Homo sapiens: one gene and its partners. The protein of the gene in region 4 interacts with the protein of the main gene of each other region in a biochemical or structural test. Each region holds a gene or a part of one and is shown on either strand. Other genes may lie near its edges. The genes, in order: GSN, TMSB4X, DNASE1 and ACTA1.

Region 1 (7,547 bases), on a different chromosome or scaffold from region 4:
ACCTCAGCCTCCCAAGTAGCTAGGATTACAGGAGCATCCCAGCACGTATTTTCAGTAGAGACAGGGTTTCACCATGTTGACCAGGCTGGTCTCAAACTCCTGGCTTAAGCCATCAACCCAACTCGGCCTCCCAAAATGCTGGAACTGCAGGTGTGAGCCACCATGCCCAGTTAAAAGATAGCTTTTTATTATTATCATGCAAACCAACATCTCTCCATTTTACACATGAGGAACCAGAGGCTCAGAGAGATAGGATTTGCCCAAGGTCACCCAAAGAACCAAGACTGGGGGTCCATTTCCAAGTCAGTGCTTCTAACTTCTCTCACACCTGTGGTCTCTGATAAGCAAATATACACACCCAGAGGCCGCAGACACAGGATGTAAAAGTTTTCTTAAAGAAAACCAGAGCTCAGTGTCTCAGCAACGTACCATAGACCAAGCAGAAATCATCTCTATGACCCACATCACAAATGACCCAAACTATTCACATGGAGTAGGGGAAAGTGACCCACTGTCACTGGATGGCTAAAAGTGAAGGCATCCAATCAACGTGTTTGGCAGGAGTGCACACACCATTGTTAACAGTGGCGACCTCTGGGGAAAGAGGCGGGCTTGGAGGGATTCTTTAACAATTTTTGTTTGTTTTAAAACTCATGAAAAAGAAAAAAAAGTTACAATGCTGAATACCTTAGCAACCTTCTCCAGTAGGTCTAGCCTGTTGTCTGCTTTTAGATGAAATTTATAGCAGGTTCTGAGACCTTCAGCTGGGCTTCCAGAATCTGCTGCTCTGACCCATCCCAGTGGCCACTGCTCTAGTTCAGACCTGCAATCTACTTCACTTGAATCATGCAACAGCCTCCTCAGGGCCTTCCTGCCTCCAGATCAGCCTCGTTCAATGCATCCCCTACATCAGCCATTCAGAATAACGAGTTTTTAAAAATCACTGCTCTGTCAAAACCCTTTCTCAGCTCTTCATTGCCTTCAGGATGAGGTCCAAACCCTTAGCTTATAATCTAGTTCCATTTTCATTTAGATTCTCAACCTCCCACCACCCCGCCCTTCTCCCATCCTCCACTCTAGCCACATGGATGGCTCAGAAAATCTCAGTGCCTTTGCACTAGTGGTTCCTGCTTCCCAGAATGTCTTTTCCCCCAACTCCTGTTTCTCCTGGTAAATGATTATTCATTCTGAGGTCTGGCTCACCTAGACAAAATTAGTCACTCCTCTTGCAGGCTGAAGTCACTCTTAATATGGCACAAAAGTGTCAAACAGTATAGATGGCAAGCATCTTGAGGACAGAGAGCTCTGTCCTCTTCCAAGGCTCTTTGGCCCCTCGCAGGGCAAGGCACAGAACACAGGCCCAGAGAAGTGCTGAAAGGAGGGAGGCGGGGAGGAAGGAAATGCCATGCGGGGCAAACCCTGCAGCCACCCCTCCTGGGAGCAGCCTGTTTCCAGGCTCATGTTAGTCCCTAATAAAAGGACTGTGGAAAATTCTGGAGTAAACTTTCCTCCCCTGATTCACACAGAAACCTTCTTTGCTGCTGTGTAACTCACCGAGTGCCAACCCAAGCTCCCCTGGCTGTTTACAATTTCCCTGGCATTTATAAATAGCATGGCCCCAGAAAGAAAAATGGAGTTTCAAAGGAGCTGAAAGCCGACCGTTCCCACCCCCATCCTTCCTCCTCTGTTTCCAAGCCTCTCCCCCTTAACAGCCCCAAGAAACACCAACCAGCACCCCCAAGTGTGTATGTACAGGGAATGCTTGTCCCTTTAGTAAACGGAACACCCAAGAAGGAGGCTAGAGTCCCTCCCAGCAAGGAGTCCGCAAACGGCAGACCGGAATTGGGTCTCAGCCCTACCCTGCCTCACTGTGTGACAATTAGCCCATCATAAACTCTCTGGGTCCTTGACTTTTCTCAACTGTGAAATGGAGGAAATGGAGATGGGGTAAGATTCTAGCAAGCTATGGTCGCTGTAAACGGCAGAGCGGTGAGAGGTCCTGGTGCCCTGGTCAGAAATGTGGTCCTGGGAGAACAGGACACACAGGATTAAGTGTTTGAAAAGTCCCCAGATGCCAAACAAAAGCGAAAGGCACCTCCCCAGAGGCCCCGCCTTCCACAAAGTCCAATTACCCTCAGGACAGCCCAGAATGAGTTCTGGGTGTTTTAAAGCTCCCTTCCATGCTCTGAGGAGGGTGTGAAGACAGGATAAAGCGACAGATGTCTGGGCAGACAAGGAGCTAGGAAGAAAGCCAATGTCTCCTGCTCACCCACACCCCCAGCCCCCAGCCTTCCAAGGACTGGGGCTTCCCCCTGGGCACTGCCCAGACCAGCCAGCCTGCACTGGACCAGAGGGAAGTTGCTGTTATTTAGGTTCTGGGGGGCTGGACCCCAGAAGACATGGGGGCTCAGGGAGAAGGGGTTCCAATCACTGTCTTCAACTCCAGAAGAAGCTTCCGTGTGAGTCAGGGAAGGGAACACTGCAGGGCCGGGGAGAAGCCAGCACCTACAGGTAGCAGGCGCCTGAAGATTTCAGACAGTGTAAGGAAGAACTTTCTAACAGTCCCCAGAAAGAGGAAGCAGCTGGAGAGGAGAGCAGGCACAGGTATCGTCCAGGAGGCAAGGGTCCTCTGAGTGGACTCCCCAGCAGAGTCACCGCCCAGACCGTAGCTGGTGGTCCCCTGCATGCCCGGGTCAGACAACCCAAGTGCAGGGGTGACCCCGGGCCAGTTCCCCCATCCCGGGGGCGGGGTCGAGGTTATTAGCTCAGGTGCTAGCAGCACAGTGGAATCACGGGGTGGAGGCCTGGCCCCTCTCCTCTCCTGCTCCGGCGTCTCCCCATCCCCCAACTCCCATCCACACTCTTTGGTCCCTTGGAAGACGGGAAAAGTGAGCGAGGAAGCCCTTTTCCAGCGATGCCCCCGCGGCCGGGCCGAGCTCCAGGCGCGGGCGAGATAGGACCGGGAAGGAAGGGAGAGGAAGGACTCAAATCAGCCCGGGACCCCCAGATGCCCGGGGCCGGGGCCGCGCGCCTCCCCTACCTGCTGCTGCGGCACTGGAGACAGCGGCTGCTGGGTCCAGCTGCGCTCAGCTGGTTCCGGGCGGCGGGGCGGGGGCGTTGTGGTGCGCGCGGCCGGGGTGGGCAGGGCGCGGGCGGGAGCCGCCCTCGGGGCGGGGCGGCCGGGCAGGCGGGTGGGGGAGGAGCGCCAGGCCCTCCCGTCGGCTGCTGGGCGGGTGGCTCCAAGCTCGCCTTCGTCCAGGGGGACCCCTCGCTTCACCTCGCAGGAAGGCACCAAACCAAGCCCTCTGCTTTCCCCTGGAGGAAACTGAGGCCCGGAGCACGGAGGGGAGATCTGAAGAGGCCTAGGGTCGGGGAGGAGACCCAGGGCAGCTCCTGAGCTGGGCTGGGGCCAAAGAGCTCAGATGGGACGGGCAAGCGAGCAATGCTCAACTAGCACCAGCGGAGGCAGATTTCAGCCCTGGAGAGAACGGACTTCAGGAGGCAAAGCCCTCGAAGAGTGACATAGGCTGCATGCAAAGCAGGGGAGATTCCCTCCCACGGAAGGGAATAAGGAGGAAGAGCGATTCCCAGCTCATTCCGAATGAAGTAACGAAAATGCCAAGTGCATCCCTGGTCCTTAAAGTGGACCATTAAGCAGGCGCCTCGGAGTCAGAAGGCCTGGTTTGGAACCCCAGACATCGACTAGTCCTGTAACTTTGGGCAAGCGAGCTCACATGTCTAAGTCTCCGTTTCCTCGTTTGTCAAATGGGCATCCTGAATTGCCGCTTCATGGGGCGGTTGAGAAGACTCAGTGAGAAAAAGACTCTCAGCACAATGACAGGGACCGTGGCTTCTGCATAAACGGAAGGGATGTTCTTATTAGTGTCATGGCAGATACTGTTTTAGGAGATTGAGGAAATCCACATTGGGTAGAAAGATGAGTGCAAGGTCAATTTTAAGCAAATGTAATACTTTGTTGATTTCAACAACATCTCATATGCATTTGAGACGATAGCCGTTTATAATGCAGCAAGGCATAAGACGGCCTCCCAGCAGTCCTGGTGCACACATGAGTTCCCAGGACTTTTGGAGTTGCCGCGTGACTCCGGTTTGGAAGGATTCACACACTCCACAGGAGACTGCACCACATGACAGAGATGTCCATTCCCAGCCTGGGTGCTGGCAGCAGCCCCATGTTCAGCCAGGGTAAAGCTCCCTCTTAACACAAGGTAAAATGTACTAGAGTCAGTAATTGCCGGGTGCTGGGGATCAGAGCAGAAAAGGCTGTTGTTTAAGTAGCACAGAAGCCAAGAGCACAGTGCTCACTCCCTGGTTTTTCCATTGAATAGCAGCCAGGGAAGCCACAGGACCCAGGGAATCTCACCCTGGCTCTTCCTCCTGCCATTCTCTCTTTGTTCAACACCAGTAAATACAAGAACCATTTCTTGAATGCCTCATGCCATGCTCTGGGCTTCCCACGTATTACCGACTTTAATTCTCACCTCCCTACCTGGCCTCCTAAGGGAGGCATTACCATGTGTATTTTTCAGATGAGCAGGCCAAGCCCACAGAAAGGGTTAAGTACTCTCTGGAGGTCACACTACTGATACTGTGCAGTCTACTCTTCTATGCCTGAGTCCTTGGCCCTCGCTTCTTTGCTCAATGTCTTATGTCACACTCTGCCACCTTTCCTGGCTTGGGAAATTCTGCCCAGTTCCACTTTCTCTGAGAATACAAGCAAGGTATCCACCCCGCAGGGAGGCTCACACCATCTCTGCTACTCTCTGCTTTCTCCAGAGGCTGCCTGGGGCCCAATGCAAGGCTGCTGGGGAGAAAAGCAAAAACACAGGCTTATTTGGCTCTGGAATCTTTGATTACAAGCCCCGGCATACACATGCCTTGGAATTATCTAACATATCATTTCCAGCCCCAGCAACTGCTCTCAGACAAAGGGAGGTGGAACTCTGAATCTGTGTCCCCATAGAACTGGAGAATACCACATCACGATGGAGGAAACATTGGAGAATGTCTGCTCCAACTCCTCCCTTTAGAGATGGAGAAACTGAGGCCAGGAGAGCAAAAGGGTTCACATTCTAAGCTAGATCTAAGGTTCCATATTCTAAGCTGGGTCAGATGCCTACCCATAACCCTGTAATTGCTCCATTTGGTGGCTGGAGAGGAACATGGGAACAGGGTATCACCAGGAATCATTAGAAATGATAATGAAGATAATGATGATGATGATTGATTGATGATGATTGTGATGATGATAACCAATACTTACATGGGAGTGCTCCTCTAGGAACACTTCTAGAAATCTCCTGGTGCTTTGCTTTATGACTCAACATGTGTATTTTATAGCTGGCAGGATATATCAAGTCTGCCTTTCATGGATGCCTAGAAGTCTTCTTGGTATCCTGTCTTCATTCCTTTCTAGATACCTCTTTGTACTTCTCCCCCCATTGGATCTAGGTAAGGTAAGGCCTGTTTGTCCTGGATCCTCACCTCAGAGTGAATGTCTTGCTGATAAGGATCTCCTCTGATGGAAGAACTTTGATATCTTCTTTTGCCAGAAGACCACCTCCTTCCCAGAGTGAGGCTGGGGAGAAATGAAGGCCACACACAGGCCAGGCATTAGACAATCTGGGGGTACCTGCTCTCTCCTCTGAGAACGCCTCTTCCCACCCAAGGGGATGGCCCTCACTTGCACCCAGGTTTGTACTGTAACCTTCCCCCACAACACAGTTGACAGCATGAGGAGTGGACGGCAGAAAAAAGCTGGACTATTAGAATTTGGAGCTGGAAGTTGAGACATGACAATCATGGTTAATTAACTGGGTCTGTGAGGACCAATGATCTCTGAAGGCCAAGGCTGCCATTTTGAGGTGGCCATCTTCCATCGTATTCACAGAGAAAGCCAATGAGGCTCGTTAAATGACTAGAAGGGTGTCGCAAAACTCACAGAGGAGATGCCTGGGCTGGGCAGCCCAGGAGGCTTCAGGGTTCAGGGGCTCTTCTGATTACAGACCTCTCCTGGAGCTGGCTTCAGAAAGAGAAGTTATCAGCACAAGTATTTGTTGAGCATCGAATGCCTTGTAGTTTGTCCCTAGAAGCAGAGGATGAGACAGGGATTTCATACAAGGGATTACTTGAGAGAGCACTCTCAGGAGATCCTGAAATATCCCATGGAACACTAGGGCAGGGGTGCAGCTGGGCCTCAGGATCAGACCACAAGCAGGACCTGAGTACTAAAGGGAACCCAGAAAGTACTCTCTCCCCCATCTTTCATCTCTGCCTGTCTGCTCACATCACACAAGCATTTCTGCTTTCCAGAAAATGGCTTTTACCAGCAGCAAGCTGGAATCTTTGTTTGTAGTCCACATTCTAAGTTGGATCAGATGCCTACCCTTTATCTAATTAACTCTGGCCCGAGTGACAGGGTCCTACTGCACAAACCTGGCTGCTCCCACTGTAACCTGTGGGTGGAGGGGGTGCACTTCCCAGAGAAAAGGGGAGGGGAAGCCAAGCAGAGACAACGGCTTGGATTCAGTCAGCCTTGAAAGGATGGAAAGAATAAGAGTGGAGGTGAGGAAGGGAACAGCATCTTCTGCTAAGAGCACAGAATAAGCAAAGGTGTGGAGGTCAGAGAAAGACAGAGCTGGAAGAAGGAAAGGAGACTGTTATTTTCTCCAGCCTCGGTCCCCTTTAGTGTTGTGCTAGTGTTGTGTTCTTAAGAACTGATTTAGTGTGTTTAGTGTTGTTTTCTTACGAACTGATTGCTCAATTTCCATGAATTTTTGTGGATTTTTTTGAGACAAGATTTCACTGTCACCCAGGCTGGAGTCAGTGGCACAAACATGGCTTCCTGCAGCCTTGACCTCTGGGCTCAAGCAATCCTCCTGCCTTAGCCTCCCAAGTAGGTGGGACCACAGGTACATCCCACCAGGCCTGGCTAATTTTTATGTTATTTGTAGAGATGAAGTCTCTCTATGTTACCAGACTGGTCTTAAACTTTTGGGCTCAAGAGATCCTCCCACCTCAGCCTTTGAAAGTGCTGGGATTATAGGAGTAAGCCATCACACCTGGCCAAATTTCCATGCATTCTTACACCCAGCTGTATTAAGGCTGTATTAAGCACAGCCTTCAATAACAATCTATATAAACTTATAATTAAGTAAATTATAAATTGATATGGTCTGGCTCTGTGTTCCCACCCAAATCTCATCTCGAATTGTAATCCCCATAATCCCCATGTGTCAAGGAAGGAATCTGGTGGAAGGGAGGTGATTGGATCATGGGGGCAGTTTCCCCCATGCCGTTCTCATGATGGTGAGTTCTCATGAGACCTGATTTTTTTTTTTTTTTTTTTTTGAGATGGAGTTTCCCTCTCGTTCCTAGGCTGGAGTGCAATGGCGCAATCTCGGTTCACCGCAACCTCCACCTCCCAGGTTCAAGCGATTCTGCTGCTTCAGCCTCCTAGTAGCTGGGATTACAGGCACCCGCAACAACGCCCGGCTAATTTTGTATTTTTAGTAGAGACGGGGTTT
Region 2 (7,520 bases), on a different chromosome or scaffold from region 4:
ATCCAAAGATTATTCAAATGAAGAGGACCCAATAAATTTAAAATCATGTTCACTAATCTTAACTGTATTCATTAAAGCAATTGTAAATATTGAACTCTGATTAGAAACCGGCCATTAGAAAATGAGTAAGCTCAAGTCCTAAATTCCTTCTTAACGCAGCTGCTAAAAATGTAATTTTTACTCATCTATGTTAATGCTAGCACTTGGTTAAATAACCAAGTTCAATTTGATACCCTGAAATAAGATACTGTGCTGTAAATTATCACCTTCATTTTCTTGAGCACGTGCAATGTCAGCTTATCAAAACCCGTAAGAACTGCAAAGATATTTTTATTAAAGCTCTCACACAATTCATACTAGGAATTCAATCAGCCTGAGAAAATGATCTCCTAGTATAGACAAGGTATTTTGCATACCTGGGTGAAACCCATTTCTATGCCATAAGGGAATTTATCCAGTCACCAGATGCTTGTCCCTCCCCAATGGACCAAGAGGTAGGCCTCTTTGCAAAGGTTTCATCCGCGATCCTTCCAGAAACCAAACAGACACACCAGCTAAGTTTTTAAACTTTTTATTTGCATATTAAAAAAATTGTGCATTCCAATAATTAAAATCATTTGAACAAAAAAAAAAATGGCACTCTGATTAAACTGCATTACAGCCTGCAGGACACCTTGGGCCAGCTTGGTTTTACTCTAGATTTCACTGTCGTCCCACCCCACTTCTTCCACCCCACTTCTTCCTTCACCAACATGCAAGTTCTTTCCTTCCCTGCCAGCCAGATAGATAGACAGATGGGAAAGGCAGGCGCGGCCTTCGTTGTCAGTAGTTCTTTGATGTGAAAGGGGCAGCACAGTCATTTAAACTTGATCCAACCTCTTTGCATCTTACAAAGTTAAACAGCTAAAAGAAGTAAAATAAGAAGGCAATGCTTGTGGAATGTACAGTGCATATTGGCGGCGCACGCCTCATTACGATTCGCCTGCTTGCTTCTCCTGTTCAATCGCTGTGACCAGAAAAAAAAAAAAAAAAAAGATGGAGGGAGATGATTAAAGGATTCAGTACAGACTAAAGGGCTTTCATTTAAAGCATCTTTTCAAATCATAAACATTCTACACGGTATTCCACAATGGAATAAAATATGTATATTGAATATACTAAATAGAAATACATTTTAATGGATAAATGTTTGTATATTAATATGGCATATTAAATATTCCATTACTAAATTACTAAAGCCCCGTGTTTGTTGGCTGCAAAACCATTTTTAATTAACCTTTGCAAGCCACATTCATCAACTGTCGGCTCTTCCCCCGCACTCCCCCCTCCCGAATTCTTCCCGCGGCCGCTCCCAGCCTCCCGCCCTCCCACCGGCCGCTCCCACCCAGCCTTTCTAAAGATGGGGGTGGGTCGGAGCTCACTTTCTTTGGAAGGCAGTGGATTTTTCTCTTGCGTCTCTGTCTTCTTCAGTTTCGACTTATCGAATTTCTCGATCTCAGCCATATCGGGTTTGTCAGACATGGTTGCGGAGGAAAAGCTGCAGGGAGCAAGCCAAGAGCGAGCGTGAGGAAGAGCCACCCGCCCCGCTGTCTCTGGGCTGGGAACTGCACTTCTGCCCTCCGACCCGCAGCCTGAAAAAAACCCTTCTCGCTCTCCTACTGCTGCCGTTCCGCGCTCACGAGCTTCCTCTTTCTACAGAAAAAGAGGCGACACCCCCCGCGCCCCTCCTCCCCATATTTCAAAACGCTGTGGACCAAAGAGGGCGGATGCCTCTCAAAGCCGAATCTTGCAGAATAAAGGAAATTGACCACTGCGAATTGTTAATTACAGCGTTTAAAATTAAAGGCTGGCTAGGACAAGGAAAGAAGAGGAAAGCCACTTCCAAATTCAAGTGGGAAAAATCGGCAAGAATTCCTAAAATGGAGCCCAGGTAGGAAAAGCGTTTCCATTTCCTAGCCGCGGCCTCTCCGCAAGGATGCGGGCCGGATCCGGCTTTCTAGTCCTCTCACAAAGGCGGCGGCCGCGGCTGGAGCTTCCGACCACCGCCCTACCGGCTTCATCGCCCGCGTCACAATGCAGCCCCGCACACAAAGCGGCCGCCGCGCGCCCCGAAGCCGGTCTTGCCTGCTCTCCCGGCAATTCGGCATCCCTGGCACACATGTCTCTGCAAGAAGGACTGTAAAGATGTCATAGCACAGCCCCGCCGCCGCCAGGCTGCACAGATGCAGCCCGCGCAGCCGTCCGAGGCTGGGAGGAGGCTCGGGGCTCGGAAGATGAACCTCAGAACAAAGGACTTGTCTATTCCCCCATATCTCAGCCTCCAAGGCAACGCACAATACCTTTGCGGGCAAACACTAAGAAATTTTTTAATGTCCCCTCCGAGCGGCACGGCAAAACGCCAGTTTTTCGGTTTTGTTCTTAAATCATCGATTTCCCCACCCCATTATCCAGTATCTAGGGTGTTTCGCATCCCCCCAGCTCCCCAAAGTAGCCTTCCCGGGGAGAACCACTCGGGCTCGGATTTAGGGAATGCCTTCACAGGGACGCGGATGATGAAAGGGCGGGGACGGAGGCAGGACGGCAGGAGGAAGGAGGCAGGGGCCCTGGGGCTCACCGAAGCGAGGCGCACGAGTACGAGCGAAGTCTGGTCTGCGCAGTGGCCACCACCGAGTTGTCGGGCGGGGTGCGGCGGGCGCAGCTTTATGGGCGCTCCTATGTAAATGAGGTGATGTCACCCGCCGGCCCGCTTAACTCCTTCGCGCCGCGTCTCGGAACGGCATCCGGAGGCCTGCCGGGCTTTTGGGGAGGGGAGCCCCACCCCCACCCGGGGTCCACTAGTGCATGCACCCTAACCACAACGATGGCGAAAAAAATGAGCAAAGCACCCTCCAACACTTCATAACACATTTTCCCCTTTTACGTTTATTTCATTACGATGAATTTTTGCAACAGCAGCGCAGAAATTGCTCTTGGGGACCAGTGCATAATAACTAAGGGTCGGGGTGGCACCTGGGGTGACAGGCATTCTTTTATTTCGAAACTGCCTTTGTCTACTGTGGACATCTCCACACAAGGGCGCGGTGTCCCTCCCTGGAGGGCCTGGCCCGCTGCAGGGGTACGATTCCTGTGACTCAGCTTTCAGTCCAGTGGCGGGCATGCGCCCCACCCCGGGCCTCTTTGTCTTCCTCGCTGGCGTTCCTCTTGCCTTGGGTGGGACGTAAAGCACCCTTAAGTGATTTTAAAAGAGAAAGTTTCATCACTGAAACATCCATATTGTTTCATCAGCATAATTTTTGTGAGCACTCAACAGTAGTATTTGCTGGGTGTAAGGTAATTTGGAGTTTATAGGGTAAAACACCTCCCTCTTAGCAAAATAAGTCAAGCTCAAGCTCTGCCATTGACTTTACTGCCGGACAATGAGGAAGTTCTTTACCTTCCTCTTCCTTATTTTCATAAATTTTAAAAGTGATGGCTAAGGAGGCCAGCGTTGAATTCCAAAGACTACAGTTACATTATCTCTAATGTCTTAAGATGAAATTCAAAAATCAAATTATATTTTCAAGGGAGCGTTTCCAGCACTAGGACATCGCTGAAGTGCATCTGCATCTGGAAATATAAGAGATTCGGGTAGAGGGAAGCAGTTTTCAAAATGGCACCTGACTCTGTGAATACCAGTGACCCACTTGCTACTGAAAATTAGTTACAAATACCATGCCACGCGCCTGCAAATGGCGTGTGAAAGGAAAAAGACTCGCCGGTTATAAAGAGGCCTAGCTGTGATTATTTCTAAGAGACAAGGCAGTGTGCAAAATATTCCTTCTCCTTTTCCGTGGCCTGGGGAAATGTTTTTAGAAACCCCTTGCTAATCATTTTTATGGCACAGGCTTTTGTCTCGCTGGGGATTAGAGTCAACCTTATATATAGACCCTTGAATGCCACTGCCAGCAGCTTGGACTTCCCCGTTTCTCCATCTACTTGACTTCCTTTTTCCTGGGGAGGAAGGAGGTGGGGGTGAGCAGGGGCAGGTGACCGTCTGGTCCCCTAGTTAATGCTCTGCTGGGTGGCTGCCTTCCTGGCCTCCGAATGGGGCACTGGACCTGTTCGTGCATGCACCAAATGTCACCTGTCTGGTAACAGCCCCCCCGCCCCTGTTCCATGTTGGGAGTCTACTTCATCGTTGAAACACAGAAAAGATCTTGCAGGGTGCCTTTTCGCCCGTTTAGCTGGCAGCTGCCGTTGTACCGACACCGTTTCCGCAGGTTCTGTGATTCTGTTTCCCCTCACCCAGCTGCTGTCGAAAATCATTTCTTTCCTCCCAATGTCTCCTGATGACAAAGGAGTGCCACTACCTTCTCCTGGCTTCTTCTCCCAAGGGCCTTTCCTCAGAAAGGGTTAGGCCTCACTGAAGCAATTCTCCAAAGGAGATGGACGAATGCAAACTTGGAAATGTCTGGAGAAGTTTTCCAGTGCGGTAGCAAGCAGCCTTCCACTGTGCTGAGACACTGATGGAGGGCAGGTGGAAACAGAGAGGAAGAGAAAGAGAGACGACTGCTTAAAGGAAAAGAGTTCCCATGATTGGGACTGACCTGCCAACCGGTCAGGAGACCTAGAGAGACAGGAAAGGGAAGGGTGGTGCAGATACAAGGAAATGCAAACCAAAGGAATATTCTTAAAAGTTGCATGACTCTGGCCATGTGAATGAATCTTTCTGTGCTGGAGTTTTCTCATCTGTAAAATGGGTTCATTGCAACACCGACCTCACAGGGTTGTTGGGAGGAGTAAATGCTTCGGACAGTGCATGACAATTAGTAAGCTCTTTCTATTGTTATTATTCGTATGATTTAGGATGGAAGGTTGAGGAAAAATAATAAAATAATTGTCTTAGTGTTTAGAATTAATTAAAAATTTTAGGTGTCTTGATATTATTTCTCCTATAGAGACATTTATATATTATTATATATTATTTCTATATAATTAATACATATGAATATATATTATTATTTTCACTTACAAAATGTTGATAGAAGATCTTTTGGTAGTTTTACAGCAAATAAAACATGACAACTCCTGTCGGTTGATATTTTCTAAGAGTCAGGCATTGTAACGTAAGTTTTACATTTGTTTTTTCCTTTCTTTCCCACCGCCTTTCCATAAGAAATTTCCAGATGGGGAAACTGAGGCTTAGAGAGCCATCATTGGGTTACCTCAGCTGGTAGCCACTCTGTTATATATGCCAAGAGCATGTAAAAGTCCTCCCCACATCCTCTTAGTCTGTACCCGAGAATCACCAGGAAGAGTGTGAGGAGCTAGGCAGTTGTGCTTTCCACAGCGTCTGGTGGATAGTAATTGCTCAATAACAGTTCTCCCACTGCATTGAATTGATTTTCTTTTCTTTTCTTTTTTTGAGACAGTCTCGCTCTGTCACCCAGGCTGGAGTGCAGTGATGTGATCTCGGCTCACTGCAACCTCCACCTCCCGGATTCAAGCCATTCTCTGCCTCAGCCTTCCATGAATTGATTTTCTTAAATGAGGGAGGTACTTGAACTCAGGTGTTGAACCTGTGACTCTAATTGTCTTGCTTTCTTCTCCCCAGATAATTAAATCCATTTAGTCTTAATGTTCTAGATGTCAGAATGTTCCAGGATCATCCCTGCCCCAGGCAGCTACATTTATAAGTCTGTTAGTATGTGCCGGGCACAACTACCATTGAGGTAGCAGTTTTCGATCCCAATTAAAAAGACAGAGGCACACAGGGGCAAAGGAACTGCTTACAATGGGTGCAGACATTGTTCCCAGTGAGACCCCCCCCCAAAAAAAAAGGCCTTGGGTGACTCCGGGTTGTATGGTGCACTCTGGCCTTGGGGCTCTCTGGTGAAAGATAAGTAGAGTCCACTTTGCGCCTGTCCTGCCTTCCTCATCTCACGGGCCACAGCGCCCAATGAAAAATGTGCCAACATTGCCTGCGTTGAAGGGCGGTTCCCCTCCAACCCTGTGTCTGGTGGAACCCGGAAAAGGTGGCAGGGGACGCAGTTTTATTTTGCTTTCCAGGGCGGGCCTGGGATAGAGTCGTGGCTATTTCTAACCATGGAGAAGTTGGCTAGAAGTCTGAATTCATGAAAATGAGTTCTATTAGTTTGAACCTATTTAATTTTGTGCCAAAAACTTACCAGAAGAAGAGAAGAAGGAAGAGGAGGGAGGAACGGAAGAACAGGAACAAAGCTGAGCTCCCAGCTCTTGCTTTCTCAAGCCCAGATCCCTTTGTCTGAGTTTCAGGGCCTCCTACCATCTGCCCCACCTGCCTGCACCCCACGTTCCCCTGTGGCCCCTGCAGTCTCCATCTGGTCTCCCTCACAGCAGAGCCCTCCTTCCACTGATTGGAATCTAAAACCCCTTAAAGACACAGCCTAAGTCCCCCCTGTGAATAACAGGAAAATGAAAAGAGAAAGGATATTTAGTAGACTAGCTATATCTTGTAACCTCAGCTATAAGCCCTTTTAAACAATATCTGATTCCATTCTTACCCTATGGAGTGAGTACTAATATCCCCATTTTACTACTAAAGAAATTGAGGCTCCGAGAATTTAAGCAATTTGCTCTTAATCAAATGCCCAGGTCTGTCTACCAAGTCTTTCCACCGAGGCCTATCTCTGCCTTATCTTTAGTTGAAGTATCTTTCTCCAGGACTCCCACCCAGAGCGGACCCACATGGTGCAAAGAGGAAGGCGAGCAGGGGGTGGCAGGAAAGCAAAGAGGAGTGAAAGAACACCCTCGCCTGTGCTCAGTGCTGAGTGCCGTGCTGCTAATTGTCCTGTTTGCTTTATTGATCCGATGGAAACTTTAGAGCCAAAAGAAATGTAAAAGGGGATCTCATTCAACCCAGTTTCCCTTCTGTGGCTTGAATTTTCCTCTACAACATCCCCTCCAAGTGGTTACTCAGCCTCCACACAGCCAGGGAACAATACGGAAGCAGAGAATCTTCGAGTTAACGCAGGGGGCAATGAGTAGCTTAGCTTGGCAGGCACTTGCGTAAAATGAGAGAAAGTGACAGGAAATAACGCTGGGAACCAGGCAGGGGCCAGGTTGTAGAATAATGATAGTAACAATCATGGCTGTACCCATAGCAGTAATAACAGCAAGTGCTTTCTGAGTGCTTTCCATATACTGGGAAGCTTTCCATGTAGTATTTCCCGAATCCTCACACAATCCTATGACAGTGGCACCATTATTCTCCTCATTTTGCAGATGAGAGAATTCTAGAGGGATTAAATAACTTCCCCAAGAAAACACAACGAAAGCCAAAGGCAGGATTTGAACTCAGACTGGCTGGCTCAGAAGCCGCCTCATTTAAACACTACTCTTCTCTAGAATCCTAAGGCCTTTTAAAGGCTTTGTTCCATACGCCAGATAAGGGTAAAGTTATATTCTGTCTCAATCAGCTGTCTAGCTTTTTCATCATGTAGATGTTTTTTCTCTTTTTTTCTTTTTTTTTTTTAAGAAACAGGTTCTCTCTATGTTGCCCA
Region 3 (8,173 bases), on a different chromosome or scaffold from region 4:
GCAGCCTGGAAGTTAAAGGGAAGAGCCGAGTCGGGAACAACGGCGCCTCGGAGCAGCATCCCTGCAACCACGATCCTGATGGGTGTTGGGAAGAGAAAGTAGGTTCCCCTTTCACACATGGGCCTGGCTCAGCACCCGCAGGAACTAAACTAAGAGCCCTGGGACCTGCCAGTGCAGGTCTGTGGGTGCCCAAAACTGCACACCCTGGTCTGTGCCCCTCAATGTGGAAACCACATGACAGCCTAGGTGTCTGCCTCTCCTCTTATCCCCAGATGTGCTTTTCCGAAAAAACCTAAAAATCGTGGCTCTTGTTATTCTGTTCCCTGTAGTGGATCAACTGAAGCTCAGTTGGGTGAGTGTTCAAAGGCTTTGAGGCTTCTGAAGCCCGACCTATGAGTCACGGCTGCCCTTGGAGGTGCCCTCAGTCTGCCCTAAGCGCGAGGCCCTGCTCACCTGTCATAGGCACAGTGCGTGGGTGTAGCTGTGGTGTCAGCGCTGTCGGGGATCAGCCACTGGAAGGTGGGGCTTGTCCACAGGCGGATGGATGACCACTGGGAGGGTCTCACATAGCTGCAGCCCGCATTGAAGTCGCCCATCAACATGACGTCCTACCAGGAAACGCTGCCTGTGGCCCTGGGACATGCGGAGGCCGCTGGTGCCCACTGCCCCTGGGAGGGCCTCACCTCCAAGCCCCATTTCTCTTGGACATCCAGGTAGACGTCATAGAGAGCGTCGATCTCGGCTACTGCGTCCCCCGGGGCCGCATGCAGGGGAACAATGGCAAACTCCCTGACCTCTGTGGAGACAGCCACGTCGTGTGAGGCACACTCCCTGGGGGCAGGTTCAGTCACCATGTCAGCTGGAACTATGTATCATGACAGTCCCCCCGGGGGGTGGATATTTTCCAAATGACTTGAATGGAAAACCCAAGCCCCAGGGACTGGGAGGGCAGTGTGTGACACAGGCATTCCAGGTTCCCTAGGAGGGGGTGGAGGCCATAAGCGCCAAGCCGAGCCCCACCCTGGCCCAGGCAGCACCCACCTGTGAACCGGGAGAAGAACCTGACAATGGCTGGCTCTCGGTTGAAGGTGTCGTTCCCGCAGGGCTCGCAGCCATCATCGTAGTAGTAGCTGTCCACCGCAGACACCTGGTCAGGCCTGCGGGAAGGCCGGGCAGGAGGAGGTGACCCCAGGCTGGAAGCTGCCCCACTCCTGCTTCCCAGGAGGCAGGCGTCGCGTCCCAGGCGACAGGAGGGCGGGGGAGCCAGGCACCTGCTCAACCCATTGGTCCGGGACCCAGGCGACAGGAGGGCGGGGGAGCCAGGCACCTGCTCAACCCATTGGTCCGGGACCCAGGCGACAGGAGGGCGGGGGAGCCAGGCACCTGCTCAACCCATTGGTCCGGGACCCAGGCGACAGGAGGGCGGGGGAGCCAGGCACCTGCTCAACCCATTGGTCCGGGACCTTGGGGTGTTTTCACTCCACCCTGGACCCTGCTCTGAAGCCTCAGGTTCTTGCCATAGGACAAACTAATAGGACAAACTACTTCCCTGCTCTGTTGGGGCCCTCCCAGGTGAGGGAGGGGCTTCCTGGCTTTCTAGACCACCCACCTGTACACGAACAGGTAGCGCTCCTTATAGCTGTTCCGTCCCAGTGGCTCACTGACCACGTAGTGATAGGTGTCTGGTGCATCCCTGGATTGAAGAAACAAAAGGTCCCAGTGGCGGGGGCCATAGGGGACCCCTCTGGCTGCCGATAGCGAGGCTGTGCCCAGGTCCCCACCCTTGGGGCCCAAGTGAAGTGAGGCTGTGCCGTGGACGAGATGTCACCTTCCTATGACCCTGCCACTGTCACCCACTGATTGAGGTTGTCCAGCAGCTTCCCCACGGCAGTCAGGTGGCTGTCTCTGACCTCCTGGACCAGGGCGATGTCATAGCGGCTCAGGATCTGGGGGCAGGGCCACAGTGGTGCTGAGCAGGGCTGGTGCCACCCAGGGACCCTACAGCGCCACAAAGGGAGCCACAGCTGATGCTCGTGGCATTGCTCGGTTTAACCGCAGCCTCATGTTTCTGCCTGGGCTCCTGCTGCCAGCCAGGGACAGCACAGCAGGGATGAGGACCTTGGTCCACAGCCAAGAGCCTGTTCCACCGTGCTGGGAGCAGTGGTGCTCAGTACCCCACACCCGACACCCTGTGGCTCCATAGGGCTGGCCCTGCCCACCAGCCCTAGACTCCAGAGCTCCTCTGCTTTTGGGGGGAGGCTGCCCTGGCCTCACCTGCACAATGTAGCTGACGAGGGTGGCATTGGACATCTTGGTCTCCCCAAATGTCTGGATGTTGAAGGCTGCGATCTTCAGGGACACGGCCCCCTGCAGTAGGGCCGCCAGTGCCAGCAGCGCCCCCAGCAGCTTCATGCCCCTCATCCTGGGAGAGCACAGGGCACAGAGACATAACAGAAGTGAGACGTCATCCCTGCCACAGCACTCCAGCCTTCTGGAGCCCAGCTGGCAGGGGCTGGTGGAGCTCAAGGTCAGGGGGACGCAGGCGGGGGAAACCCTTTCCTACAACGTCCAGAAAGCCAAACAGCTGGCACCACGTAGAGGACCCCGAGTCACTCCTCCATCCACCAGAAAACCCGCCCGGGAGGGACGCTGGAGCCTCCGCCTCACTCGCTGCTGGAGGATGAGACTCTAAGCCTCCCTCCCTGCTCCAAACCGGCCAGTCACCCAGAGGCACTCCACCTGGTGCTCACCTGAGATGATGGTGATGTCCTCAGAGATGACGAGAATGCTGTCAAGAATCTGGAATATCCTTTGATGACAATTTTCTCCTTTTGCTGCTTAAAGAAAAAAAAGTAGTCTATGAAGAAAGGTCTCTGAAGAAGCACTTCAAGGCCCTGGCAGTGCTGCTGGGCTCCGGATCCTGCACAGGCAGTGCGTGTCTGGGAGTTTTAAAAGTTCAGGCAGCTGTGACCTTCCCTGGGGCAAATGTGAGCCGTCACCTGAGAGTGCAGAAAACAATGGCTCTGTGTGGCTTTCCGCATAGGTGGGTTGCTAGCACGTGTTTCTTTCTGTAAGCACAGGTTTCTTGCTGCTGTAAAAACTGCACCTGATAATCACGTTTGCACTTAGTTTTAAAATGTCTGATAACAAGGCCAAAGGTTCCTATCCCGTGTCCCTTGCACGTGTGGTGGCCCCCATCTTCCAGGATAGGGCAGGGATGGGCCAGGTATGTGCGGGAGGGTGGGGCTGGGCTCCAGTCTCCCTGTCTCTTGTCTGGGGGCCCCAAGGTCACTTTGGACAAAGAGGCCAAAGCCACATCCAAAGTTGCAAATGGAGCCCCCTGGTGGCTGACAGCCATGACTGCTCTGTGGCCCAGGACACGCCTGCCTTCCTGATTCATCGCCATCAGGTGCAGGCAACTCTGCAGGAGGCTGGGGAGCTCGGAACAAGCAGTGGTGGGGGCCTGCAGCACCAGCGCCGTGGGGCCAGGACAGGTGGGGCCTGCAAAGCCCACCCCAATTGCCAGCCAAGCAGTGGGGAGCCTTCTTGAGGTAGACAATAGGCTGTGTGTTTAGGCCCAGGGGATCCCGAGTGACCAGGTCACAAGGGCAGGGCAGCAGCTAAAGGCCAGGCCTCAGGTCCAGTAATTTCTTGGTTCTTTTGTTTTGGGTTTTTATTGTTTTTGAGACAGGGTCTCACACTGTGTTGCCAAGGCTGGAGTGCAGTGGCACAATCATGGCTCATTATAGCCTCAACCGCCAGGGCTCAGATAATCCTCCCTCCTCAGCCTCCTGAGTAGCTAAGACTATGGGTACGGCACCATGCCTGGCTAATTTTTAAATTTTTTTGGTAGAGATGGGGTCTTGCTCTTTTGTCCAGACTGGTCTTGAACTCCTGGCTTCAGGCAATCCTCCGGCGTAGCCAGGACCACAGGTGCATGCTACCATGCTCAGTTTTTTTTTTTTTTTTTTTTTTTTTTTTTTTTTTTGAGGCGGAATCTTGCTCTGCTGCCCAGCCTGGAGTGCAGTAATACTATCTCGGCTCACTGCAACCTCTGCTTCCTGGGTTCAAGCAATTCTTCTGCCTCAGCCTCCCGAGTAGCTGGGATTACAGGCACGCACCACCACACCCGGCTAATTTTTGTATTTTTAGTAGAGACAGGGTTTCACCATGTTGGTCACACTGGTCTCAAACTCGTGACCTTGTGATCCGCCTGCCTCGGCCTCCCAAAGTGCTGGGATTACAGGCGTGAGCCATCGCACCCAGCCTATTTTTTAAGTTTCTCACAGACACAAGGTCTCCAAGTCCTGAGCCCAAGCAATCTTCCCGCAAATGCTGGGATTACAAGTGTGAGCCACCGCACCCCGCCACTCATTTCTTGGAATCTTTGACTTTCCATTCGTATTCATTTCCTGAGACTGGTGAAACTACCACAAGTTTGGTTGCTTAAAATAACAGAAATGGATCCTCTCAAAATTCCGGAGACTGGACGTCTGAAGTCAGGGAGTCAGTAGGACCTTGCGCCTCCTGGAGGCTCCGGGCGGTTGGGGGATGCTCCTTGCCCTCCAGTTTCTGCAGGCTGCCAGCAATCCTTGGCTTTCCTTAGTTGTGGCTGCATCACCCCAGTCTCTGCCTCTTCTTCTTAAGATCTGTGCACCTGCATTTGGGGTCCTCCCAGAGAGCAGGGAGGATGTCCTTATCTCAACAGCCTTTACTCACATCTGCAAGTCCTTTTTTGCTACAAAAATCAACATTCAGAGGTTCCAGGGCTAGGGCACAGCTATCTTTTGAGCCACCCCTGGGTCTTGCCCACTTGGAAGGGGCTGTGCTGGCCCTCCAAGGACAGCCCTGCACGTAGCATCTGTGGTCCCCCTGGGGGAGGAGGGCCTGGAAGGCTTGGCAGAAGTCCAGGCGGGATTCAGGTATGAGAACTGCAGGAAATGAATACAAATGGGGTCTGCAGGAGGCCTCAACGGCAAGAGTCAGCAGGGGCCAAGGTCGAAAGTCAGGAAAGTGCTCGGTCTGGCCAGCTGGCCATGAAGCAGAAGGCAGGCCCAGTGGGGACTAGAAACAGGAAGGTAAACCACCCTCCACAAGACTGGCACCCCATTCCATAAAGACACGCCAACAGACGCCTCTGGCTGGCAGCACTGGTGCACTCATCTGTCCCTCCTATTGAGACGGCGTCTACCAGATGGAAACACCACCACTCCTCAGGCTGCCAGAGGCCCCATTGCAGGCTTTTCCAAAGGTTTCAGCAATGGTTCTTCCCTGTTTTTAATCTCTAAGTCTAGGACAGCCTCCAGCACGTCAAAACCCAGCCCCCAAGCAAGGCCACCGGAGTATTCGGTGTAGGGACTAGTCCTCTGCCTTTGGTGTTTGCCTTTCCTGGACACACATCTGACAGCGACCCATCACGGGGAAGGGAGTAAAGCTAGAGGGCGGCCACTGTCCTCCACCAAGAAACTGCCTGGTGCAGCTTCCGGCGGGGCACAGGGACACCAATTATAGCTCACAGAGCAAGTGCCCAACCCCCTACGTGTGCTCAGCACGTGGGACGAGGGTTCCCCTCTGGTCTGTCATCCCCTCCTGGCTCTTGACCAAATGCTGCCCCATCTGCTTTCAGGAACTCCCAGGCATAGTGCCCCTGCTTCCTCTACCTGCCAGAAGGAAGGCTGGAACTTGGGCCTCGCTTGTACAAATGGCGAGTGCTGCCTGCTGTGTGGCTGCCCTCAGGACGGGCTTTGGTGAGGGCAGCACAGCCCTGGAGGAGCCTGGTCTGACATGGGGCCCGTCTGGGATCACTGTTGGGCCTTCAACCGTCTGGAGCCTCTATGTCTTCCTCTGATAGATTCCCAGAACAATCATTTCACCTTCTAAGAAGCCATCCTGCCCCTGCAGCCTGTGGCTTGTGGAGTCTCCAGCACTCTCACTTCTCCCTCGTGGATCTCTTTTCTGTCTGTGTCAGTCAATGCTGCCATGTAACAGCCACCTGCAAACTCAGTGTATACACATGCATTTCTCTCACACTGCCAGGTCTGCTGGGGTGGCTCTGCTGCCTGGGCCTCGTCCTGGGGCTGGGCTGGAGAGACTGCAGCTCCCTGGGCACCCTCTTCCCACAGTGTGGAAGGTGGAGGCTCCCAGGGCACAAGCAGAACACGTGCCGCCCTAAGGCCAAGGCGGAGCTGGCTGCTGTCGCTTCTGCCCACATTCCATGGGTGCTGTCGAGCTGTAGGTCCAAGCCCCACATCAGGGGAGTGAGTGGGGTACAATCCTCCCATGCTGGGCCCCACTCTGGAGATAGGCCTGGGGAATGCCCAAGAAGGAAGCCCAGCCCTTCTGGGATTTTCACATCCACAGAGAATGGGTGCTGGCAGCCAACGGCAACGAGGAGAAAAGCTGACCGCCTTCTCAGATCAGGATGAGGTGTTTTTACACCAACCCCGAGGATCTGCAGCCTTCTCAGGTTAAATTAAACCTGTCACAGACACAGGAAGGGAAAAGAGCACATAACAACAATTATATTGACATCTAAGCCAGGTCACATGCTCTGATTTGGCTGAAATTACAGGATAAAGGAAAAATCCTATAGGCACCATGGCTGGAAACAAATGGCCTCAAAGGAACGCTGGTGGCCGTGGCTTTGTGCAACGACAGCCAGTGTTGTGTGACCCAGCGACGTGCAGGCCAGGGAGGGTACCCTTCTACTGATCAAGAGGGAAAGCGGGAAGGACGCACAGCTGTGGTTTCCAACCTGCACGGAGGCACCCCCATGAACTCACAGAGCACCATCAGATCCTTCTGAATTTTGAAGGAAGCAATGATACTCTGCTCTGCTCAAGGCCATTCATGGTCTCAACATTAACGTTACCTTGCTTTATAGGGTATCTTCCCTCTCTCTGCCAGGCTGGGTTGTGGCAGTCACTGAACAAGCAATTACTGTGAAGGTCGACGTGGAAAAATGAGGCAATGAGGGTGGCGGTGTTCTACCAGATTCCAAGTTGAAGAGGTGCTCGACAGGCACACACATCCCATGACTAAACAAATAACATGAACATTTCTCTTTATGTATTACTTTTCTAGACATCCACTATAAGTTGCCAGGACACAAATGCTTATTATTGGGGTTTACTTATTTAATAAATGGAACTGTGGGGGATTTCTTTTTCTTTTCTTTTTTTTTTTTTTTTTGAATGACCATATAATCTGGACTTACTAACTTTAGGTAACAGTAAGTTAAAAGATAGAATAAGGTTTCATATTACAGGAATTCAAAAATTGACCATATAATAAATGATGAAGAAAACTAACAATAAACAGGACAATGTTCAAATAGCTCATTGGGGCCAAAAGATCAGCGTATATCCTGCATCATCTTTCATGCAATGTCTCAGCTTTTTTTCCCTCAAACATAAAGGCAGATTAATACAAATTAGCCTTATTTAGAATATTCATTTACGTTTCCTTCTGAAATTGATACTTGAGTGGAAGATGTATTAATAACTCGTGGTTTCTACTGAAATTTAAGATTCCACCAGATGATGCTCAGATTTAGACGATGCTAGAGTAAGACACTACTGGGTGATGATTTCAAAGTATGAGCTGCAGGTAAAATCTAAAAGGACATACATAATAACAAATGTTTTCTAATTTAAAAGACATATAGTAAATATCCATGAATTAACTCACACAACCTACTTACAAACAAAACTAGAATAAACAAAACTTGTAGGAACCAACTCCAGTTGATTTCGCCACTTAGCGGGAGCAAGTTCTCAGGCGGGTCATTTTATTTAAGGATGACTTGAAATTTTACAAGACCACCTTAGCTCCCACATACGAAAACTCTTTAAGAATTTTTTTTTTATCAACTAGAAGTTGGGGAAAACACACCGAGAAATAAAATGATACAGCTCCTCACACATTTGAAGGCCCATGTCATGCCTAAATTTCTACCGATTTAACTTAAGAAGCTCCTCGCCCTGAGAGATTCCTTTATCCCACAACACTTGACTCAGATGGGGCAGAGGGTCCCAGGACACTACCCAGGCCACAAGATAAAAACACAACCTGTCTCCTCCGGCACCACTATCAGGGATTTCTTTTGGCTTACTATTAAAATAATTATTGAACCTTAATCAAGAGTGCTCTCAACTGAGAAAGTGTGAAGCTT
Region 4 (7,207 bases):
TCATATGTCTTAGGTACTCACCTAGTTTGTTGTTTTGTTTTTGGTTTTGGTTTTGGTTTTTTGAGACGGAGTCTTGCTCTGTTCCTAGGCTGGAGTGCAGTAGCGCAATCTCAGCTCACTGCAGCCTGTCTCTTGGGTTCAAGAGATTCTCCTGCCTCAGCCTCCCTAGTAGCTGGGATTACAGGCACCCGCCACCATGCCCAGCTAATTTTTTTGTATTTTTAGTAGAGACCAGGTTTCACCATGTTGGCCAGGCTGGTGTTGAACTCCTGACCTCAAGTGATCTGTCCACCTGGGCCTCCCAAAGTGCTGGGATTACAGACGTGAGCCACCGCACTCAGCTCTCACCTGGTTTTAATCCTCAGATCAGTCTTAAGGAGTATTGTGAGTTGAGAATGCTTTCTGGAAAGTCACTTGTCCAAGATCACATAGCCAGTCAGAGGGGAAGGTAAATGCAGCTCTGCTTGATTCCAGAATGCAAGCTCCTAACCAGTTCATGATATTCTGGGTATAAAGAATGTTGAAGAGAGGGCACTGCTCCAATGAATCATCAGGTTCTTAGAGGTGGCCATGAGTGCAAAAACCACCAGCTTCAGGAGGAGGAAAAAGTAGAAAATCCAAGCCCAAGCCCTTTCTTTGGGCTGCCAGGAGTTGACTCAACTTTTTTTTTTTTTTTTTTTTTGAGATGGAGTCTCTCTCTGTTGCCCAGGCCTGGCGTGCAGTGGTGGGATCTCGGCTCACTGCAACCTCTGCCTCCCAGGTTCAAGTGATTCTCCTGTCTCAGCCTCCCGAGTAGCTGGGATTATAGGTGTGCACCACCACGCCTGGCTAATTTTTGTGTTTTTAGTAGAGACGGGGTTTCACCATGTTGGCCAGGCTGGTCTTGAACTCCTGACCTCAAGTGATCCACCAGCCTCGGCTTCCCAAAGTGCTGGGATTACAGGCATGGGCCACCGCGCCTGGCCGACCCGACGTTTTTAAGTAGCTTGTGAGAATGAGTTGGTCTTTGTCTACCCTGTTCCTGGAATATCTCTAACTTGGAGTGCCCAGCCAGCCCCTCAAAGCTGAGTTTCTGGGGAAGCTACGGCTTTTCATGTCAGGATGTCTTTGGCTCATTACTGGGAAAGATCCCTCAAGGGCCTGTTCTGTTTCGAACTGTACCCAGTGTTGGTGAGGATTAGAGAGAAGCAGCAGTCCTTGCCCTCCCTGGCCACTGGCAGTAGAAGGAAGGACAGCCCAAGCCCGTCTCCTCCACTGGCTGCTGTGGAACCTGGGGTGTGTTTTAGCTCATTAAGCCTCAGTTTTCTTTAAAAAAGAAAAAAAACTGGAATGAGTAATACCTATCTTATTTACCTTAGGATAGTTAAACGGTTAATTGAAACACGAAAGCATATTATAAAGTGTTTTACCAATTCCTGTTTAAATTGATAGGAAACACAGTAGGAAGACTGGAACTGAGCAAGATTGGGGTACGGGTGTGTGGAGTGTTGAGGGGCACAATTGGAGAGAAGGGAAGTGTGAACACACCGGGGTAGTGGTAGCAGAAGGGCCCGGTCAGGGTATGAAGAGCTGAGGCTGCACCTGAAAACTTAGAAGCAGGAACTCCCTGTCAAGCATACCCTACATGGCTGACCTTTACTTAGTGACAGTTCTCAAAAGGCGGAGCAGGGCGCCGCTGCGCTCCCCCAAAACATACATGTATGGAGACGTGGCTCTGCCACCCACCATTCAGTCTATTCTCTAAGCCAATGAGAATGCAACAAGACCAGAATGGGACTGAGGGTGGCCTGTGGTGACCTGTCAGGGACTATTTAAACCAGCCGCAAATCATGTGGGCAGGGAACAGATGCCTGGCTGGCCACCTCAGGGGCCATCTCCCACAGTTTGCTGTACTAGCAGGTCTCTGTTCGCTTGTGAGTGTTTTTAATCATGGTCAGCTTTTAGTGTGGGTTTGAATGTAACAGACTGAGCTTAGAAAAGCTTTCTGTAAGGAAAGGTAAGAGTTGAACTGAGCAAGAGTTTTGAAAAATAGTGACAATCCCATTCTCCTTTGGAATGCGCACAAATATTGAGGTATCCAGTGAACGGCAGCAAATTTCCTACCTTCAAGGCCCAAATGTAAGCTAGTCCCCTTACGTTACATGCAGCTCATTTGCTAAGTGGTTTTTTTCTAGTATCTCCACTACTCGCTGACACAGGAGGACACAGGATGTTAAAAAGGAAATACAGTTCTGTCAATTATTCACTTACTCTCCAAAATACTTGGAAGAACTAAATATGGAACCATAGGAGACTTTATCCTCACCGCATAGTCCCTATACTAGTCAAACTCCTTATTTTTTAATTGATCATTTTTAGGAAGGTAGCATTTTATTCACTAGAACATTTTTGTTAATACTTGTTTATTTTTGGGATGAACTGCCATGATGTGGGCTACAGAGGAGGGTCGCATATGCTTCCATCCCCCTTTTAGAGAATCCACACCTGTCCCAGTTGCTGGGTTCCACTACCAAAAGTGAATTGCAACTATTTTAGGAGCACTTAAGCACATCCGAAAAATGAGTGATTCTGTTCTGGCCCACACCACATCACTGATGTACCCCCTTAAAGCATGTCCCTGAGTTCATCACAGAAGACTGCTCCTCCTGTGCCCTCCACAAGGTTAGAACTGTCCTTGTCTTAGGGAAAAAGGAGAGAGAGAGAGAGAGAGAGAGAGAGAGAGAGAGAGAGAGAGAGAGAGAGGGACAGGCACCAACTGGGTAACCTCTGCTGACCCCCACTCTACTTTACCATAAGTAGCTCCAAATCCTTCTAGAAAATCTGAAAGGCATAGCCCCATATATCAGTGATATAAATAGAACCTGCAGCAGGCTCTGGTAAATGATGACTACAAGGTGGACTGGGAGGCAGCCCGGCCTTGGCAGGCATCATCCTCTAAATATAAAGATGAGTTTGTTCAGCCTTTGCAGAAGGAAAAACTGCCACCCATCCTAGAGTGCCGCGTCCTTGTCCCCCCACCCCCTCCAATTTATTGGGAGGAAGGACCAGCTAAGCCTCATCTAGGAAGAGCCCCTCACCCATCTCCACCTCCACTCCAGGTCTAGCCAGTCCTGGGTTGTGACCCTTGTCTTTCAGCCCCAGGAGAGGGACACACATAGTGCCACCAAAGAGGCTGGGGGAGGGCCTCAGCCCACCAAAACCTGGGGCCAGTGCGTCCTACAGGAGGGGAACCCTCACCCCTTCAATCCCTTTAGGAGACCCAAGGGCGCTGCGCGTCCCTGAGGCGGACAGCTCCGTGTGCTCAGGCTTTGCGCCTGACAGGCCTATCCCCGGGAGCCCCCGCGCCTCCTCCCCGGCGCTCCGCCCTCGCCTCCCCCCGCCAGTTGTCTATCCTGCGACAGCTGCGCGCCCTCCGGCCGCCGGTGGCCCTCTGTGCGGTGGGGGAAGGGGTCGACGTGGCTCAGCTTTTTGGATTCAGGGAGCTCGGGGGTGGGAAGAGAGAAATGGAGTTCCAGGGGCGTAAAGGAGAGGGAGTTCGCCTTCCTTCCCTTCCTGAGACTCAGGAGTGACTGCTTCTCCAATCCTCCCAAGCCCACCACTCCACACGACTCCCTCTTCCCGGTAGTCGCAAGTGGGAGTTTGGGGATCTGAGCAAAGAACCCGAAGAGGAGTTGAAATATTGGAAGTCAGCAGTCAGGCACCTTCCCGAGCGCCCAGGGCGCTCAGAGTGGACATGGTTGGGGAGGCCTTTGGGACAGGTGCGGTTCCCGGAGCGCAGGCGCACACATGCACCCACCGGCGAACGCGGTGACCCTCGCCCCACCCCATCCCCTCCGGCGGGCAACTGGGTCGGGTCAGGAGGGGCAAACCCGCTAGGGAGACACTCCATATACGGCCCGGCCCGCGTTACCTGGGACCGGGCCAACCCGCTCCTTCTTTGGTCAACGCAGGGGACCCGGGCGGGGGCCCAGGCCGCGAACCGGCCGAGGGAGGGGGCTCTAGTGCCCAACACCCAAATATGGCTCGAGAAGGGCAGCGACATTCCTGCGGGGTGGCGCGGAGGGAATGCCCGCGGGCTATATAAAACCTGAGCAGAGGGACAAGCGGCCACCGCAGCGGACAGCGCCAAGTGAAGCCTCGCTTCCCCTCCGCGGCGACCAGGGCCCGAGCCGAGAGTAGCAGTTGTAGCTACCCGCCCAGGTAGGGCAGGAGTTGGGAGGGGACAGGGGGACAGGGCACTACCGAGGGGAACCTGAAGGACTCCGGGGCAGAACCCAGTCGGTTCACCTGGTCAGCCCCAGGCCTGCGCCCTGAGCGCTGTGCCTCGTCTCCGGAGCCACACGCGCTTTAAAAAGGAGGCAAGACAGTCAGCCTCTGGAAATTAGACTTCTCCAAATTTTTCTCTAGCCCCTTTGGGCTCCTTTACCTGGCATGTAGGATGTGCCTAGGGAGATAAACGGTTTTGCTTTAGTTGTCGCCAAGGCAGTTCCCTTCCAAACTAGCGCTAGAGCGAATGAGCGAGCAGCCAGGACCACCCATTCTGGGTTTCCAACAGGCGAAAAGGCCCTTTCTGAGTTTGAAATGTCACAGGGTTCCTAACAGGCCACTCTTCCCTGGATGGGGTGCCAACGCCTTTCCCATGGGCATCTCCTTCCACCCTCACGCTGGCCCAGCAAGCAGGCAGTGCTGAGGCCTTATCTCCCTAGGTGACAGATGTGGTCAGGGAGGCGCAGAGAGGATGGGCACTAGCGTCCAGCTCCTGGAACAGGTGTCAGGCAGGGAGGGCAGACAGGTCTTGGGGAACATGTTCCCCTGGCTATGTGGACAGAGGACTTCTCAGTGGGGTCTCGCGACCCTGTGCCCCTTTTCCTGGTTCAGGGCAGCCCTTAGCCGGGGCAAAGGTCGAGAAGAGAACCCCTGGTCGCCGCCCTGGCAGAATTTGAGTGGCTCCGGCAGGAGATGTCCCTAGGTTCCTGGGGAGGGAGGACGTCGGGGCCAGCCAGGCTTACCCCCCCCTGCCGCTGAGACTTCTGCGCTGATGCACCGCGCCTCTTCGCGGTCTCCCTGTCCTTGCAGAAACTAGACACAATGTGCGACGAAGACGAGACCACCGCCCTCGTGTGCGACAATGGCTCCGGCCTGGTGAAAGCCGGCTTCGCCGGGGATGACGCCCCTAGGGCCGTGTTCCCGTCCATCGTGGGCCGCCCCCGACACCAGGTCAGGCTGCCCCTCCGCAGAGGGAGCCGGCTCGGGGTCCCCGCGTAAGCCAGCCTGGTGCCACCCGGAGCGGCGTTAACGGGTGCGTGGTGTCTCGGCTCTGCAGGGCGTCATGGTCGGTATGGGTCAGAAAGATTCCTACGTGGGCGACGAGGCTCAGAGCAAGAGAGGTATCCTGACCCTGAAGTACCCTATCGAGCACGGCATCATCACCAACTGGGATGACATGGAGAAGATCTGGCACCACACCTTCTACAACGAGCTTCGCGTGGCTCCCGAGGAGCACCCCACCCTGCTCACCGAGGCCCCCCTCAATCCCAAGGCCAACCGCGAGAAGATGACCCAGATCATGTTTGAGACCTTCAACGTGCCCGCCATGTACGTGGCCATCCAGGCCGTGCTGTCCCTCTACGCCTCCGGCAGGACCACCGGTGAGTGCCCGCTGCCCCCAGTCCCCTCTCCCGCCCCCGCCCCCGCCCCCGCCCCCGCCGCTAGCGCTGAGAGCCTAGCCTCGGCCTCGCCCCCAGCCACTCACTCTCTCCCGCGCGCGCACAGGCATCGTGCTGGACTCCGGCGACGGCGTCACCCACAACGTGCCCATTTATGAGGGCTACGCGCTGCCGCACGCCATCATGCGCCTGGACCTGGCGGGCCGCGATCTCACCGACTACCTGATGAAGATCCTCACTGAGCGTGGCTACTCCTTCGTGACCACAGGTGCGCGGCGCCCCTGCACCCCGGGCGGGAGGGCCGGCGGCGGCCCCTGAGTGAGGGCTCCTCTCCTGCTTCTGCCCTCCGCAGCTGAGCGCGAGATCGTGCGCGACATCAAGGAGAAGCTGTGCTACGTGGCCCTGGACTTCGAGAACGAGATGGCGACGGCCGCCTCCTCCTCCTCCCTGGAAAAGAGCTACGAGCTGCCAGACGGGCAGGTCATCACCATCGGCAACGAGCGCTTCCGCTGCCCGGAGACGCTCTTCCAGCCCTCCTTCATCGGTGAGCCCCGCTCGCCCTCGCCCCGGCCCCCAGGCCCCGCCGGCCCCCGGCGCCCCGAGCTTCTGCTCACGCTCCCCGCCGCGGTCCCCAGGTATGGAGTCGGCGGGCATTCACGAGACCACCTACAACAGCATCATGAAGTGTGACATCGACATCAGGAAGGACCTGTATGCCAACAACGTCATGTCGGGGGGCACCACGATGTACCCTGGGATCGCTGACCGCATGCAGAAAGAGATCACCGCGCTGGCACCCAGCACCATGAAGATCAAGGTGGGTGGTGGCCTGCGCGGGCTGTCGGCGGGGTGGGCTCCAGGGTGAGGTCTCCCCACCTCACGCGCTGTCTTGCAGATCATCGCCCCGCCGGAGCGCAAATACTCGGTGTGGATCGGCGGCTCCATCCTGGCCTCGCTGTCCACCTTCCAGCAGATGTGGATCACCAAGCAGGAGTACGACGAGGCCGGCCCTTCCATCGTCCACCGCAAATGCTTCTAGACACACTCCACCTCCAGCACGCGACTTCTCAGGACGACGAATCTTCTCAATGGGGGGGCGGCTGAGCTCCAGCCACCCCGCAGTCACTTTCTTTGTAACAACTTCCGTTGCTGCCATCGTAAACTGACACAGTGTTTATAACGTGTACATACATTAACTTATTACCTCATTTTGTTATTTTTCGAAACAAAGCCCTGTGGAAGAAAATGGAAAACTTGAAGAAGCATTAAAGTCATTCTGTTAAGCTGCGTAAAGTGGTCGTGTTTATTTGCTTGGGGCGGGAGTGGAGCAGGAAGAGGGATTCCCATCCCCCACATCCTCTTAAGTCACTTTTCACGATACCCCAAATGAATGGGCTCCTTGGAAGACAAAACTTACATCTTCCCATGCTCCCCTGCCGGTTTCTGCAGTGGATCAGATCCATTCCAGATCACTGGCAGCTAGTGGTGGCCTGACTTGACCCTCTGGGGTGTGGCGAGGCAGCTTTCTTCCTCTGCGCAGC

What was found.
Region 1: the proteins of ACTA1 (region 4) and GSN are reported together in a solved structure, tested with the Homo sapiens proteins (3 studies listed by BioGRID and IntAct).
Region 2: the proteins of ACTA1 (region 4) and TMSB4X form a complex in vitro, tested with the Homo sapiens proteins (2 studies listed by BioGRID).
Region 3: the proteins of ACTA1 (region 4) and DNASE1 are reported together in a solved structure, tested with the Homo sapiens proteins (one study listed by BioGRID).

The regions. Positions count from the first base shown.
Region 1 is NC_000009.12:121,263,713-121,271,259, reverse strand, and holds the start of GSN (gelsolin), read right to left. Parts: upstream 3,099-7,547; 5' UTR 3,041-3,098; intron 1,336-3,040; exon of another isoform or gene 1,204-1,335; intron 1-1,203. UniProt on the Homo sapiens protein: Calcium-regulated, actin-modulating protein that binds to the plus (or barbed) ends of actin monomers or filaments, preventing monomer exchange (end-blocking or capping).
Region 2 is NC_000023.11:12,970,263-12,977,782, reverse strand, and holds TMSB4X (thymosin beta-4), read right to left. Parts: upstream 2,674-7,520; 5' UTR 2,615-2,673; intron 1,538-2,614; 5' UTR 1,522-1,537; coding exon 1,422-1,521; intron 1,007-1,421; coding exon 972-1,006; 3' UTR 560-971; downstream 1-559.
Region 3 is NC_000016.10:3,649,622-3,657,794, reverse strand, and holds the start of DNASE1 (deoxyribonuclease-1 isoform 1 precursor), read right to left. Parts: upstream 3,105-8,173; 5' UTR 3,042-3,104; coding exon of another isoform or gene 3,000-3,041; 5' UTR 2,835-2,999; coding exon of another isoform or gene 2,751-2,834; exon of another isoform or gene 2,423-2,750; coding exon of another isoform or gene 2,422-2,422; coding exon 2,275-2,421; exon of another isoform or gene 1,947-2,274; coding exon 1,858-1,946; exon of another isoform or gene 1,694-1,857; coding exon 1,610-1,693; exon of another isoform or gene 1,158-1,609; coding exon 1,042-1,157; exon of another isoform or gene 866-1,041; coding exon of another isoform or gene 797-865; coding exon 684-796; exon of another isoform or gene 609-683; coding exon 454-608; exon of another isoform or gene 273-453; intron 99-272; exon of another isoform or gene 76-98; coding exon 1-75. UniProt on the Homo sapiens protein: Serum endocuclease secreted into body fluids by a wide variety of exocrine and endocrine organs. Expressed by non-hematopoietic tissues and preferentially cleaves protein-free DNA. Among other functions, seems to be involved in cell death by apoptosis.
Region 4 is NC_000001.11:229,430,997-229,438,203, reverse strand, and holds ACTA1 (actin, alpha skeletal muscle), read left to right. Parts: upstream 1-4,109; 5' UTR 4,110-4,200; intron 4,201-5,076; 5' UTR 5,077-5,088; coding exon 5,089-5,217; intron 5,218-5,323; coding exon 5,324-5,648; intron 5,649-5,772; coding exon 5,773-5,934; intron 5,935-6,018; coding exon 6,019-6,210; intron 6,211-6,301; coding exon 6,302-6,483; intron 6,484-6,561; coding exon 6,562-6,705; 3' UTR 6,706-6,959; downstream 6,960-7,207. UniProt on the Homo sapiens protein: Actins are highly conserved proteins that are involved in various types of cell motility and are ubiquitously expressed in all eukaryotic cells.